2 separate regions of the Homo sapiens genome follow, and region 2 is linked to region 1. Evidence: fine-mapped expression QTL. Tissue or cell type: cerebellum. Region 1 holds a variant in brackets; the other region holds the start of a gene. All regions are shown on one strand. Distances are between the middles of the regions.

Region 1 (2,673 bases):
CACCCTGCAGACGCCACAGGAGCCCCCAGAGCCCGTCCACAGGCCAGACACAGGGGCATGGAGCCACACCCAGGTCCTTCCCCTTCACAAGCCATGATGACACACATACATTGCAGTCTTGTGTCCCAGACCCCGAAATTGCTCTTGCAGATGGGGAAGCAGGACGCCCACGTGGGCCTCGGCTCCAACAGTGCGGCCCACCTGCGGCAGGTCCCAGCACCCCCAGGGCAACCCCAGCCCCAACCCCCAGCACCTGCTAGGCTGTGATGGAAGCCGCCCCACCCTGCCCAGTGGGAAGCAGCCCCAGTCCTACCTCCTCATCAGAGCTGTCCTCCGCATACTCATCCCCAATCCGGGCGCTCGCCATCTCTGTCCTCGGGCAAGGAGTGCTGGCCTGCAGAGAGAGAGAGAAAATGGTCACTTCAGGGGATACAGGGTACCCTTTGACCTTGGGGGGATCCCAGGAAGCCCACCACCCCGAAATCTCTGAGCAGCTCCAGCCTGGCACAGGCCTCAGCACAAGGCCGAGAACACCCAGCTCTAAGGGGGCCTCTGGGGGCTGTGGCTGGCACCCGGCGCCGCAGGTCCTGCCCACGGCCCTGTCCTCTGTGAGGGCTGGACTGCAGCCTCCCGGGGCCTCTGTCCCTGGGCTGACACGGGTGTCAGGCTAGACACGGAAGCCACTGGGGCAGTCAGGAGCAAAGCCGCCAGCTGAGGACCAAGACCCACCGCCAACCACCCGTACCCCCATTCATGTCAAAGCCACAGGACTCCTCCCAGGGGCCCCACATGGCGCTCCTGCCGAGCCCCGCCTGGGACGGGGGCAGCATGGTCGGGGGGAAGAAGGAGACGCAGCCGTCGCAGCAGGGTCACTGGGGCCAATGCTCTTGAAGGGGCGGGGGACACACATTGTCCACCCATCCCGGGGGCCACGTCCCGCCCAGTCCAGCCAGCAGAGGGCCCAGAGAGGGCCCCGAACACTCAGAAGGCCTGCCCAGCGTTCTCCCACCCACCACGTCCACAGCCCAGGCTGACCCCATCCCGCCGGGTCACAGAGTGGGCGCCACTGAGAATTCACATCCCAACCTGGAAAACAGATTCTGCCCTCGACTGCGGAGGTGAGGATGGCTCCAACCGGATCGGGTTTACTGGCGGAACCAAGGCTGATGGGGAAAACAGGCCCACCTCTCACCCGTGGGGGCAGTAAAGTGCTCGGGCGCAGGAACCCCAGAGCGAAGGCGGGCACGCCCCCGCCCCCACCCCGAGCCCCTCTTCTCTC[C/A]GGCCCGGGCTCCTCCCCTGCCTGTTTTTTCCTTCAATATAAAGAGAGATGGGAGACTAAGTTTTTTCCCAGGCCAGGAACAAGGAAGGATTCAGTTTCCACGTCTCCCCCTGCTGCTGACAGTGGCCTGGGGCGCTCAGTGACACGGAGCTCTTGCCCCTGCCTGGAGCACATGAGCCCCCACAGCCGCAGCAGATCCGTGACCCCGGCCCCAAGCCCCAGACGCGCACAAGGGCAGTTCCACACCCGGCTGCGGTCGGCTGCCCCCGCCTGGCCTCTGCGGACGGGTACCGGGCTGGGCTCCCGACCCCTCACAGTGGCCGGGGCTGAAGCACCGCACGCTGGAGTCCCAGCCTCGCTGCTCATGGGCCGCAGTCCCAGGGTCCTGGCAGGTGACAAAAGACTTGTCACCCAGCGCTCTGTGCCCCGTGGCCCCTGTGCTGGATGTGGACAGGCCACGGCACAGGCAGGCTCTGGGCAGGGGGCAGAGGTGGCCTTCGAAGGTGCTGGGTTCCCAGGGGCGCAGCATCCCCGTGGGACAGCTGTGGGGCACAGAGTCCACCAGGGGGCGACGGCGCTCAGCCAGGCCCAGCGCCCGAAGGGCAGGGGCGGTGCGGGCAGGGGCGGTGCGGGCAGGGGCGGCCACTGCTGGGAACTGCCTGACCTAGAAGGCCCCTTCAGATTTTGGAGGCAGATGCTGTGGGGCATTGAACGTATTTTTTTTAACTTAAAAATTAGAGGAAAAGGCCACCAAAACCCTAACGACACAGACAACGGAACATGAGCCCACGCCACGCTCCGGACTCCTGGGGACAGGACCCCCTCCCGCCACGCCCATGCCTGGAGTCAGCCCGGATTCTCCAGGGTCTCCAGCACCACCCGCAGTGTGCGTGGCCTGACTGAGGAGGGGTCGGGCCCGATGGAGCACGAGAGTTGCGTGAGGGTGAAGTAAAAGCTGAGAGAGTGGGCGGGCGAGCGCCACTGGGCAGAGGCAGGCGGGTCTGAAGGACCGACGGGTGGGCAGGGAGCCGCCGAGGGGGAGCGCAAGGACGAGGTGCCAGCAGGATGCGGGGCCGCTGGGGCCAAGGAAAGGCTGCTGTAGTCCCTGAACCCTGCGTGGCCTCTGCCCAGCCCCAGGGCTAGAATGTCACCATGAGGACCAAAGGGAGAAACCCACAGTGGGCTCAGCCAGACAGAAACGGTGTCCAAGCGCATGAGCCCCCTATTGTGACCACACCAGAGCCTCCCCTCCCCAGCATCAGGCCAGCCAGGCCGTGCCCCACTGCCACCAACCAGGCATGAGACACGGGCTCTGCCCTCACCTCCTGGGAGAGGATGGCGACAGAGCTGCGGTGTCCCGGTTCGGTGGGAAGAGAACTCTGCTCCCAGGGCTG
Region 2 (2,673 bases), 130 kb before region 1:
CCACCCCTTCATTAGGAAAAAAATAGAAACTGCGCCAGGCAATTTAAGCAGGTGGGATTGGTTGCTTAAGTGTCAGAAGGGCTTGAGAGGCACGGGGGCAGGGTGGAGTTCGTCGAAGGTGGGGGCTGCAAGAAGCGGCCACTCTAGAACCGGAGCCAGGTGGTCCCGACCCAGGGTGGCTGAGCCTCTGGGCTCTGCTGCGGAGCCTGGGAGCCTGCGGCCCCTGCGGCACACCTCCGCTCCCACCAGTGGCAGGACACAGCTGGAAGCCCGCGAGTGTCAAGCCAAGTGATGACTGCAGGATCAGAACGGCCATTGGCTCTGTCCACCCTCCCTTTGCAGTCTCGATTATCCGCGTCGTTGCCTGCACCTGAGTCCATTCCCGGGGCTTCATTGGGCAGCCGTCCCGTGCGGGGCTTTGTAAGCAGCCCTCGGGAGCAAAATACAGACTCAGGCCTGCCCCTGGCGGAGGGGCTGGCGTTCGTTTGTGATCGGAGTGAAAGTGGGGCTGTGCTGCGCGCGGCAGCTGGTGTGCGTGAGGCGGGGGCGGCACCGAGACCGGGAGGGGACAAGGCCACAGGCGCGTGGGAAGCCGCCGCAGGGGCCGCGCCCGCATCCGCAAAGGGTACTGCGCTCTCCCGGGCGCCGTCCCCACAGCGGGAGCCCAGTCCCTCCGGCCAGGAGTGGACATCCTGCCCGCGCTGCTCCCGCCGCCTCCGCCTCTGCCGACGCCCAGCCTGGACGCGCGGCGGGCGCTTTCCTTCCTCACATCGCTCTTATCGCGTCCCGAGTTCCCGGGACCCCGCTGGTCGCCTCTTTCCCAACGAGCGCAGGGCCCTGCGAGTCCTGCCCCCCTCCGGGTGCCGCGGCCTCCAGCTGGCGCTTCCGGGGCAGACAGAGGGCGGGCGGGCCGCGCGAGTCCAGGGCGGGCGTGTGCTTGCGAGCGGCCGCAACGCCGCGCCGAGCCCGCGTCCCCGGCGTCTGGGAGCGGAGGTCGTCAGGGCTGTATGCGTCCGACGGGGACACGGGGACTGCAGCACCCCGGGGCTGGCGTAGCTGTCGCGAGCCTGAAGGCCGCGCCTGCGCCGTGGCGGCCGAACTGTCGCTCAACAGACGGGCGGGGCCGAGCGTGAGGCGGAGTCTGCGCACTGCTGCTTTGCAAATGAAGGTGGGCGGGGTGGAGCGAGCGTGAGAGACGTGCCCCCGACCAATAAGTGCAGAGATCGCTCGGGGGCGGGGACCTGCTGCCGCGCTCCAGGCTGCGGGTGGCCAGAAGGCAGCGGGGGCGGGCTCGGCGCGCGCGGCTCCGCCCACTCCGGGCCCCTGCTGGGCGGGAAGGCGGCGCCCCGGCCGAGGTGGCGGCGGCTCCTCAGGTAAACGGCGGGTGGGGATGAGCCTTCGGCGGCGCTGGGGAAGAGCCCCTCGGGGAAGTCTGGGCTGAAGAGCCTGGGGCGGCTCCCTTGGCGGGGCCGCGGAGGAAGCCGAGTCAGGAGGCGCCTCCCCAAGGTCACAGGGCGAACGCTGGGAGGGTCCTGGGTGTCGCGGGGACCTCGGCTCAGGTGTGCGCCGCGCCACAGCCCGGAAGAGAGGCCGGAGCTGTGCGGCTGTGCTCCTCCTCTGCGCCGCTAAGTCGTCTCGGCCGCGCGACCACCCCTCTTCGGGGAGCTTGGTGGTCCCCGGTGCCCGCCCCTCCGCGGGAGCCCGGTGGTCCCCGGTGCCCGCCCCTCCTGTGAGCCCGGTGGTCCCCAGTGCCCGGCCCTCCCCGGGAGCGCGGTGGTCCCCGGCCCTTCTCCCCCCAGGCGGGGCCACCGGGGGTCCTCTCTCCGGGAAGCCAAGCATACGCCCGGAGCCTGCAAAGCCGGCGTGCCCCGGGCCTCCGTATGCCTTCCGTATTCTCTGACGATCGCGAGCAGGAAGGTGATTTGTCCCTAGTCACGAGGATGACTGGTCATAGCGTGCCGGGCATAGCGCTGGCAGGGCCGCCGGGAGCCAGCCCTCACTCAGCCAAGGTGAGACTTAGGGGGTCGGATTTTCGGGCAGCGTCAGTGCAGCTGCAGTGTGAGGGTCAGAGGAAACCACTCTGCGGGCGCTGGTGGCTCGGTCCTACACACTCTGGGGAGGGGCTCCTTTGCCTGCTCAGTTGGGGAAGGGACAGACTCATAAACTCAAGTGCAGTGAGGTAAGCAGAAAAGGGGTACGGGGGTGTGGCCGAACTTAGGGATGTGAGCAGAGTTGGGTCGGGGACAGCCCTGTAGGCAGGGACCACTTTGGAAGGGGATGGTGGTGAACGCACACGATGCGGTAAGAGGCAGGCAGGGTAGGGCCGGTGATAAGTCAGGTGAGGGTGGTGAGTTGAGTTTAGAGCTGTTGGGTCTCAGTGCGATGACCATGGATGGAGATGTCCCGAAGACCTCGGGTCCCGGCGAGGCGAGGGCTGGAGATGCGTGTGGGAATCGTTGTTTGCGGCATGTTTCATAGGTGGTACGTGTTTGTGACGTGGCTGCATGGACAGTCTGGGCACCCTAGGGTGCTGCCGTCAGCAGGATCTTCAGTGCTCAGTCTCAGGCTCTCAGGGTCCCCGTGAACAGGTGTCTCTGGTCTCTCTTTGATGTCAGAGTGGAATGACCTGAGGCTAAGGTGTTTTTGTTAACTTGAAACTGACGTGCAGGCCGC

Which allele goes with the higher level. Positions count from the first base shown, and alleles are read on the strand shown. Sizes are in standard deviations (SD) of each study's normalised expression.
As copies of A replace C in region 1, the expression in cerebellum of the gene that starts at base 1,313 in region 2 goes down (small effect, 0.28 SD a copy in GTEx).

The links. PIP is the estimated chance that this variant, and not a neighbour inherited with it, causes the effect.
Region 2: it holds the start of MROH1, and the variant in region 1 is fine-mapped to the expression of MROH1 in cerebellum (GTEx, PIP 0.92).

The regions. Positions count from the first base shown.
Region 1 is chr8:144,275,911-144,278,583 of GRCh38, forward strand. BOP1 (BOP1 ribosomal biogenesis factor) reads right to left here. Exons shown (of 16, transcript NM_015201.5): 3 at 314-394. Among named protein-coding and RNA genes, the nearest start is that of SCX, 11 kb to the left of the region's middle. RefSeq lists a silencer at 1,898-1,947. The variant C/A (reference allele first, on the strand shown) is at 1,280.
Region 2 is chr8:144,146,704-144,149,376 of GRCh38, forward strand. It overlaps MROH1 (maestro heat like repeat family member 1), which reads left to right and starts at 1,313. Exons shown (of 44, transcript NM_032450.3): 1 at 1,313-1,373. RefSeq lists silencers at 585-674, 795-994, 1,165-1,544.